Homo sapiens: one gene and its partner. Each later gene encodes a partner of the first gene's protein in a complex. Each region holds a gene or a part of one and is shown in the gene's direction. Other genes may lie near its edges.

What was found.
Region 2: PLRG1 (region 1) and ARMC7 share a complex: the UniProt entries of both Homo sapiens proteins name them as parts of the minor spliceosome.

The regions. Positions count from the first base shown.
Region 1 is NC_000004.12:154,534,495-154,540,430, reverse strand, and holds the end of PLRG1 (pleiotropic regulator 1), read left to right. Parts: intron 1-377; coding exon 378-480; intron 481-1,217; coding exon 1,218-1,326; intron 1,327-2,322; coding exon 2,323-2,462; intron 2,463-2,951; coding exon 2,952-3,145; intron 3,146-3,686; coding exon 3,687-3,746; 3' UTR 3,747-5,426; downstream 5,427-5,936. UniProt on the Homo sapiens protein: Involved in pre-mRNA splicing as component of the spliceosome. Component of the PRP19-CDC5L complex that forms an integral part of the spliceosome and is required for activating pre-mRNA splicing.
Region 2 is NC_000017.11:75,126,965-75,130,808, forward strand, and holds the end of ARMC7 (armadillo repeat-containing protein 7), read left to right. Parts: intron 1-1,712; coding exon 1,713-2,074; 3' UTR 2,075-3,308; downstream 3,309-3,844. Other genes in the region: NT5C (5'(3')-deoxyribonucleotidase, cytosolic type), read right to left, coding at 3,524-3,678, 3,789-3,844. UniProt on the Homo sapiens protein: As a component of the minor spliceosome, involved in the splicing of U12-type introns in pre-mRNAs.

The DNA.
Region 1 (5,936 bases):
TTAGTCTTCAGTTGTATGGCCTCACCATGTTAGTGTTATTAGTGCCCTGCCCCTGAAATGTGATATTCTCACGTTCCATTCTGTAACAACTATTGTCCATTAGTTCTTTCATTCAGTAGTCTTAAAAAGTAGTCCCATCATACTCATTCTTAGATTTTCAGTACCCTGATCTTTTAGCTTTTTAGAATTCTTGCAAGTTGTCTCCTATTTATATTCGTCCTCCAGTTTGTAAATCATTATCTTTCACTTAAGCATTTTCTTTATTATATTCAGGCACTAGTTATGTAGTAAATTTTCAGCCTTGAATTGATCCAGTTATCTTCTTGAGATAATGAATACCTATTCTCTTTCCTAATATGTCTATTGTGTTTTTATAGATTTGGGATGTGAGAACTAAAGCCAGTGTACACACATTATCTGGACATACAAATGCAGTTGCTACAGTGAGATGTCAGGCTGCAGAACCACAAATTATTACAGGTATGATCGATACTTTTCAAGTTTACAGAATATTCATGTCAGAATCCATGTTATTATACATATACTTTTAATATTCATGATGACTCTTGCTCTGTATTGTGTTTACAGTGTTTCTGTGTCATATTTTAATCATGGACAATTGAAATGTATTCAAATGAAATTTCATTCCACTGTTTTTACCTCATGCTTTTTACATATCATAGAGTATGCCATACATAGTATCCTGTAATGTCTGACTAGAATACTGTGTTATGAACAATTATTATTTTATAGTGTCAAAATTATTTTTCTAAGAAATTGAAGTTAGAAGACAAAACATCTTGAGACTAGTAATCTTTAGAACTGATTTGAATCTTACTTTGCTCTAAATAAAGTTAGTAACAATGGATCTTTAATACTAGAAAATAATTCCTTTGCCTGATGTATTTTATTAACTTAAAAAAATCATTGAAGTTTTTTCCTTTTCACTAGGGTATACAATTATATATTTATTTGTTATTTGCATTTGTTTTAGCTGTTCAATTGACAGTGAATCAATTGTTGTATTGCATTTTTTTAAAGAATTAAAATCAACCTAAAAATTTGGAACTATGAAGAAATTAGCCAAGACTAATTTGCGTGTGATATGACTTTCATTTAGAACATATGTGTTTTGGAAGAATGCTTTGTATTTTATTTAACTTTTGCATTATTTTTCCTGGTCTATGTTTTGAGGGATATATGTGTTTCCATTACAGGAAGCCATGATACTACAATTCGATTATGGGATCTGGTGGCTGGAAAAACAAGAGTGACATTAACAAATCACAAAAAATCAGTTAGGGCTGTGGTTTTACATCCAAGACAGTAAGTGTATTTTCCTAATTAGCTTCTTGTTTTTCTTCAGTTCTTAAGATAATGCTGAAATGCTAGTGGTGTTAGCACTGCTTTTGGCAGTCATTTAGCTGCTGTCATTTCTAGGCCTGTGCCGCATAGGAACGTGTGTTTCTTTTATTTTCCTCATGCACTATTTTGCTTCATGCCCTATAAAACATGAGGAAAGCCTTCTACTTGATAACAAATAAATAATGTCAAATGAGACAGTGTAAATCATGATTAAATGCTGCATGTCAAAATAAAAGATATTAGTGGCTAGGCTTAATGTTTTGGACATAAATGATTTTGGACACTGAGACATTCATTGAATAGTTTAATTCTTAAGGAGGAAGTTAATATATGTAGAAACAGAAATAATAAGAACCGTGAACATTACAGTCAGAGTATCCAAAAAGGTGGAGCATAATATCACAACTATTGTTTGGTGTATCAGATCACTCTGACACTTTTCTGGATTCTTCCTCTCCTTCCTTTCCTCTTCTCTGTCTTCTACTCTCCATACCCTTTTCCCCCTCTCTTCTTCCTTCCTTTGCTTATCTTTCTCACTCCCATTTCGCCTCTCCTCCCTCCTGTTCTCTCTCTTCCTCTTGCCCTCTATTCCTTTTCTCTCTTTCTTCCTGTCCTGTCTTGCTCTCCCTCCCTCCAAAAGAGTTGCATAACACATTGCCCTTCATGTGAAATAGGGCTTCTGCACATTTATTGCTCTGGCTTAGTGCAGAGCATTAAGGAAATGAAAGGAGAACAAAACATTAATCTAGGACTTAAAATATACTGTTAAAAATGTGAAGGTCTGATTTAACCTTGAACAAATGTCTTAATATTTTTACATTTTGATACGACTATTTTGCTGAATATATAAATCATTGAGTACACACTGCAAAATATAACTGAAATAAACTTTTTAAAACCCACCACTTTATTTAACTTGGTTTACTTTGTCGTTAATTCTTTTTAATATTATTTCAGTTACACATTTGCATCTGGTTCTCCAGATAACATAAAGCAGTGGAAATTCCCTGATGGAAGTTTCATTCAAAATCTTTCCGGTCATAATGCTATTATTAACACATTGACGGTAAATTCTGATGGAGTGCTTGTATCTGGAGGTAAAATAAGATTTTTATAATAAATATGTTTAGTCTGTTATTTTTTCTTTTAATGATGAATAAACATTTGTAATGCTTCTAAGCTGTCACACTTAAGTATTATAGCAGCACTTGCCTGGTTAGGGCATATTTGCATGTTATTATGTGTGTTCATGCATATTCATATTACATGTAGTATATTTCATAGCTTAGTCCTCTTTGAGTTCCCATCTAATGAATCTCAGGGATTTATGCTGGGAATTGCTTAAAATTTTGTTTATTATTCTGGAATTGGATGTCAGATTTTCAGGTGCTTTTTAAGATCTATAAGTTCTGAACCCAGCCCAAATGAAAGTAGACAAACCAATATTAAGAGAAGGTGGAGTGCCTGTGTCTTATGTATTTTTATAACCGTAGTATTCCCATGCTTGGGCTAATGATGCTTCATAAATGTTTGTCAAGCTGTACTGCTGAGGGGATACCAGGTGTAACTAGATTTTTCCCTTTAAGCTGACAATGGCACCATGCATCTTTGGGACTGGAGAACTGGCTACAATTTTCAGAGAGTTCACGCAGCTGTGCAACCTGGGTCTTTGGACAGTGAATCAGGAATATTTGCTTGTGCTTTTGATCAGTCTGAAAGTCGATTACTAACAGCTGAAGCTGATAAAACCATTAAAGTATACAGAGAGGATGACACAGCCGTAAGTTCTGTGTTTCACATTCGTTAAGTAAAACAGCTATACCAATTTGGCAGCATATTCTCATTTAATTATCAGAAGGAAAAATAATCTTTATAGTATTTAAGATATCTGTCTTCTTGAATAGTGTCCATTTATATATTTCTATATTGTTTCACTGATGCCAGTGAATCCATGGATGGCTTTAATTTTATCCCAACTTCCTTTGTTATAGTTGCTGGGAAATGTTGCACCAAGAATAACAGCAAATAAATAGATTGCTATGTAAATTAATTCGAGAATCATAAGCTTTGGTGTTAGTAGAATATCCAAGTAGAAATGTTATTTTAGATGGAAAACTACAAACTAAACATAATGAATCCATCCATCTGTTATTAGACTTGGATAATGCCAGAAGTTTATCAACTCTTCCTAAAACTGTCAAAGAACTAAGTGTATAAAGCCAATGAATAATGTTAGATACCTTATTTTTGTTAGAAAGGAAGCCTATTAGACATGAAGCAAACTAATAATACTTTATTTTAACTCACTTTTCTATTTTTAGACAGAAGAAACTCATCCAGTCAGCTGGAAACCAGAAATTATCAAGAGAAAGAGATTTTAATGAATGTGGAATTTTTTCTCTCTCTTTTTTTTTCTTTTTAATTAAAAAAAAAAAAGCTTGGCGTTCATGAGGATATCCAGTCATTTTGTGCTCTGGCTGGGAATATAAAGGAGAAATTCACTTGCTTCAATCATTGCTGCTTCATATTTTACAATAAACTGTCCCCTGTCCCCTACCCCTGTGTTTTTATTTCTAAAACAATTTGTGATACTAGGAAGATGCAGATATCAAGTAAATGCAGGTTTATTGAACATAACTATTCTAGATGTAATATTTTGACAGTCTTATTAGAAAACCCCCTTTTTTAAAAAAAATGTATGAAACCGATAATTAGGACATTTGAAGGAGCAGTAGTTTTTTTTTAGTCCTTTAAAAAATAACATCTGTGACTAATAATTTGAGATTAAAAGATTTGAAGTCTTAATTTATGTATGTTTATTCCAAAAACAGTTTTTGAGTGTATGTTCTACAAAGTTCTGCACTAGATACTGTTCAGGAAATAGACAAGTAAGATGTGTCTATCCTCTAAGACTTCCAGTTTGGTAGCTTAGTATAGAAATTCTGTAACAGAGGTGCAGGTGAAATGCTGGGGGAACAGAAGGGATAAGACCATTTATTTTTCTCAGGAAGGATTGTGGAAGACTTCATAGAGTAAGTGGCATTGGAGATTACCTTGAAGTGAAGGAAGACAAAGAAGGAAAAGAGATGAGGCATAAAGTGATGAAACCAGGCACAAGAAAGTGTGCGGTGTGTTCTGGGACAAAGAATGTTCTGCTACTGTCGAATAATGGGACTAAAGCTGGCTTGTTCTGGGGAAAGCTCATATAAGTATGGATTTTATTCCTCAACTAGTAGGATACCAATACTGGTATTGAAACTTGGGGAAAATAACTGGAGATACCAGTGCAGCTATTTAAAGCTGTAGCAAGGGCTGCAATCTTGCGGAGATTTTAAAGAGAAGTTTTAAAGTTTCTAATACTGATGCCTCTTTTTGGTAAATACAAGTTTTATAAATCCTGCCCTGGGATCCTGATTCCCCATTAATCAAGATTTGTCAGACTTCACCTTCTATAATTAGAAAACACAGTTATAAGAACAGTCAATTTTTTAAATTTTCCAAATTAAAAAATTGCACCATGATTTTGAACAAGCACTTCCAATTACATTACCCATCTTGTATGCCATAGGTGGGAGTATAATTGTCACAGCCTTTAGGAATGTAGTTTTCTGGGATTTATTGAAACTTTGAACCTTTTGGCCTACTAAGTTCATTCCTAGGAAACTGCCTAATGGGAATGATCTGACAAGTGTACACAAGCAAAGTCATTGCACCTTTGTTCTTTAATACTTAAAACTAGCCCAAATGCCCTGTCAGTAAGGGACTGGTTTAATAGATGGTACCTTTATGCAATTTGTTTCTAAGTATTCGTTAAGAGAGTGAGGAATGTCTGGATTATTAGGGCAAGATTTCTAAACTTGGGTAAAAAAAAAAGTTGTGCAAGCATTTTTGTGGACAACTTGATGCTCTAAAATATAAGTAACACCACATTACTAACAGTGGCTTTGTTAGGAAGCAGAATTATGGAAGAACTTTCATGGGTGGCTTTACATATTTCTATAATGTTTTAATTTTCTATAAGCATGTATTTCGTAAACTTAAATAAAGAAAAAAGAACACTACACTTGCATTCCTGAGAGATTCTGATATGCCTTCTAACAAGAAAAATCAGAGGTGGATGCTGTTCCATCTCTAAAGGCCAAGAAGAAATTACTAGTACAAGGAGATGAGAAAGCCCCTACCGACCTGTCTGGCAAAGCTTCAACTATTGTGTTCAAGTTAGGTATACGTATCAAATTCTGAAAAGCATTAAAAAAAAATCTCTTTCCCTGCTCCATGCTGCCCTGTATTACAGTGTTCTTGAATCCTCTGTTGCATTAATTCATATACCATAATGTGTTTGTGAACCCTATGAAAGATGCAGAATTTCATGCATGTGCCCTTTTACTTACCTGACAGACATCCAACCAGGGTTAAGCTCAAATCTTTTCCACTGCCCATTCCGTACAGCTTGAGTGTAGTCAAGCTATAAAATGTTACCAAAGAAAAACAGCTCCACTGACTGGACTCATTCTTGGTCTATAACCACATATCTCAAGTGGGCCATCAATAATGACCAAATACACATTTCC
Region 2 (3,844 bases), on another chromosome or scaffold:
GGCAGGAGAATCACTTGAACCCGGGAGGCGGAGGTTGCAATGAGCCGCGATCATGCCACTGCACTCTAGCCTGGGCAACAGGGCAAAACTGTCTCAAAAAAAAAAAAAAAAAAAGCTGGCGTAAGCCATGCACAGTGGTGCATGCCTGGAGTCAGTCTTAACTCCCAGGGAGGCTGAGGCAGAAGGATGGCTTAAAGCCGGAAGTTCAAGACCAGACTGGACAACATAGGGAGATCCCACCCCATCTCAGAAAACTGACCAAGCAGCAAGCAGAGTATCCCATTTTTACTAAATACTTACATATATTCACATATTTCAAATTGTAGAATGAAAAACAAATGTTAGGTCAGCCGCCTAACATTGAGACGTAGTATTTGCTCTGTTGCCCAGGCTGGAATGCAGTGGTGCCATCTCGGCAACCTCCACCTACCGGGTTCAAGCTATTCTGCCTCAGCCTCCCAAGTAGCTGGGATTACAAGCATGTGCCACAGGCCCAGCTAATTTTTGTGTTTTTAGTAGAGACGGGGTTTCACCATGTTGGCCAGGCTGGTCTGGAACTCCTGACCTCAGGGTGATCCACCCACCTCGGCCTCCCAAAGTGCTGGGATTATAGGCGTGAGCCACCGCTCCCAGCCATTTGTTTGTTTTTGAGACAGGGTCTCACTCTGTCGCCCAGGCTGGAGTGCAGTGGTGCGTTCATGGCTTACTGCAGCTCCACTTCGTGGGCCCAAGCAGTCCTCCCACCTCAGCCTCTCAAGTAGCTGAGACTACAGGCGTGTACCATCATGCCTGGCTAATTGTGTGTGTTTTGGTAGCGACAGAGTTTTGCCATGTCGCCAAGGCTGGTCTCGAATTCCTGGGCTCAAGGGATCCTCCTGCCTTGGCCTGCCAAAGCACTGGAATTACAGGTGTGAGCCACTGTGCCCAGCCCATTCTAGTATTTTAACAGTTTTATTGCTATATGATGGACATAATAAACTGTACATATTTAAAGGGTACAATTTGATAAATTTTGGCATAAGTATATACCCATGAAACCATCATCTTATATTTTTATAACTTTTATAAACTGTTCTAAGGTGATGATACATTACAGGGTTTTAGTTTTTTATTTATTTATTTATTTCTGAGACAGAGTCTAGCTCTGTTGCCCAGGCTGGAGTGCAGTGATGCAATCTCGGCTCACTGCAACCTCCGAGTCCCAGGTTCAAGCAATTCTCCTGCCTCAGCCTCACAAGTAGCTGGGATTACAGGCACCTGCCACCACACCCGGCTAATTTTTGTATTTTTAGTAGAGACAGTTTCACCATGTTGGCCAGGCTGGTCTCGGACTCGTGACCTCAGGTGATCCACTCACTTCAGCCTTCCAAAGTGCTGGGATTACAGGCGTGAACCACCGTGCCCGGGCCGGCCTTGTTTTAGGTTTTTACATTTAAGAAAGGGGAAAAAAAAAGCGTATCAGCCATTGAACTTGCTGAACTGAGAGGGAAAGGGATTTGTGCCCACTTCTGGAAGGGTGGGCTGTGGCAGGCTGGAGCAGGCAGGCAGGCCTTTCTGGAAACTTGAGAAGGCAGGAGCCGGAATGGGCTTTGGATGCCTTGTGCTGGGGCCAGCTTCTCAACAGCCTGGGCCCCTACCTGGGGCTCACGGGCAGGGGAGGTGGGAGGAGGCCCGGGGCTACAGCATCCAGACTCTTCCTTGCTCTCCCACAGGAGGCCTGTGCAACCTGTGCCCAGACAGGGCCAACAAGGAGCACATCCTGCACGCAGGAGGTGTCCCACTCATCATCAACTGCCTATCCAGCCCCAATGAGGAGACGGTGCTGTCTGCCATCACCACGCTCATGCACCTGAGCCCGCCGGGCCGCAGCTTTCTCCCAGAGCTGACCGCCACGCCCGTGGTGCAGTGCATGCTTCGCTTCTCCCTCTCGGCCAGCGCCAGGCTCCGGAACCTGGCACAGATCTTCCTGGAGGACTTCTGCTCCCCCCGCCAGGTGGCCGAGGCCCGCAGCCGGCAGGCGCACTCTGCCCTGGGTATCCCACTGCCGAGGAGCGTGGCCCCACGGCAGCGCTGATCCATGGAGACTGCGAGACCGTGGCACCCCTACTGCTGGAGACCACAGTCCTGATGTGGACGCAGGGAACGGGGAGCACATACTGCCCCATTGGTGCCTTTTCAGCCATCTGAAAGGCGGGTTCTTTCAGCAGGACAGGCATTTACACTGATGAAACGCCACTGGGAGTGAGGAAGCCAGACTCCAGAGACACGGAGAAGATCAAACTGGAGCTGCGTTCATAGGCTGGCACTCTCAATCCTACATCAGGTGCCACCACCACCAGACTCAGGCCCTGGTGTAAGAAGCGGCCAAGTGCCTGGACCCAGAGGCTTTGCAGGACAGTGTTCTCAGGAGCTGGGCCTGAGGCTTAGGAGAGCTGCCTTCGCTGCAGGAAATCAGGGATTATCCCTTAACAGAAGTGTCTGGAGTAGTTTTCAGGTATAGGAATGAGATGCCTCGTGGTGAAAGGATCTCACCCTGGGAAGATGTGGTGCCCCCTCCAGGGCTCTGGAGGATGGATGCCTCCCCCAGGGGCTCTCCAAGCTGGGCATTTGGGCCTGGTGGATGCCAACCTGGATAACCTGTGGCCCAGCATTGACTGTCCACCCAGCCTTGCTGTTAGGCACCATGACTCCAAGATGAAGATGTGGTCCCTGCCCTTGAGTGACAGCCCAGGGACTTAATGTGGCCATCGGGCATCAAGCACAAGGCCATGCAGGTGATGATACGTCGGAATAGAGGCACCAGCCCTGGTAACTGCATCTTCTCCCCTTGCCACCCCATGGCCCCGGCTGAAAGCTTCGGCCCTCCTCTGCTGTCACTCAATGATGGGGAGCCCTACCCCAGAAGTGTATCCCACGAGGGCATCAGGGACGCAGTGAGTGTTGCTCAAGGGAGTCAGGAAGAGACGGCAACGTAAAGGATGTGGCTCCATGTCCATGGTGCCCCCTGGTCAACATAAGGAGCGTGGGATCCGATGGAAAGGTGGAGCTCAGGGAAAATGGGGGTCCTTGCCTCTCGTGTACCCCCTCAAGGCTGACCCCTTAGATGGCCCAGGAATGGCAGGTGCTACAAAAATGGTACCCACGTGGGCATGGAAATGGGGCAGATTAGGGGACCACTGGACTCAGAGGGGAGGGAAGGGCTCATCAGCACCCGCTCAGGGAGCCTGTCCCTTTATGTTCCCAAATAAAGGGTCCTAGAAGACTAGAAAGCCAAGGTCTTTTATTAAAGGTCCCGACTGGTTTTCCCACTGTATTTCCATGCCAGCCAGGGTCCAGGGACAGCCTCTCGGGAGGTACCGGGTGGCTGGGCCTGGGGCCCGGTAGCACAGCGCTTAACGGTATCTGCCTGCTCCACTCCACGGGGCCAGAGGCACCAGCACGATGCCGCCCCGACTCGGCTCTGCGGTGGCCCCTGTGGGCCTGCCCTTCCTTTAGCTCCAGCTGCTGCCCGCGGCATCCCCGCTCATTCCCGCTGCGCAGCTCCGCGCTTGCTATCTAAGATCTCCCTCCAGTTGTCACTCCAGGAGAGCAGCCGTCTCCTTGTCGGGGGCAGGACCAGGTGCCGATTGTGGCAGCAGGTGAACAAGATGTGCTCCCAGCTTGGGGTCTCCTCCTGGCCTAGGACAGTGAAAGACAGCGCGCTGCCATCTGTCATGGGTATTATTACTCCCTCTCCCTAATCCGGGCAGGCCAGAGGCCTGGAGGCTGCCAAGGATAACGGGTCCAACCTCGAACTGTGTCCTTGTCATCAATGAGCAGGTCCCCCAAGACCACCGTCTTGTCC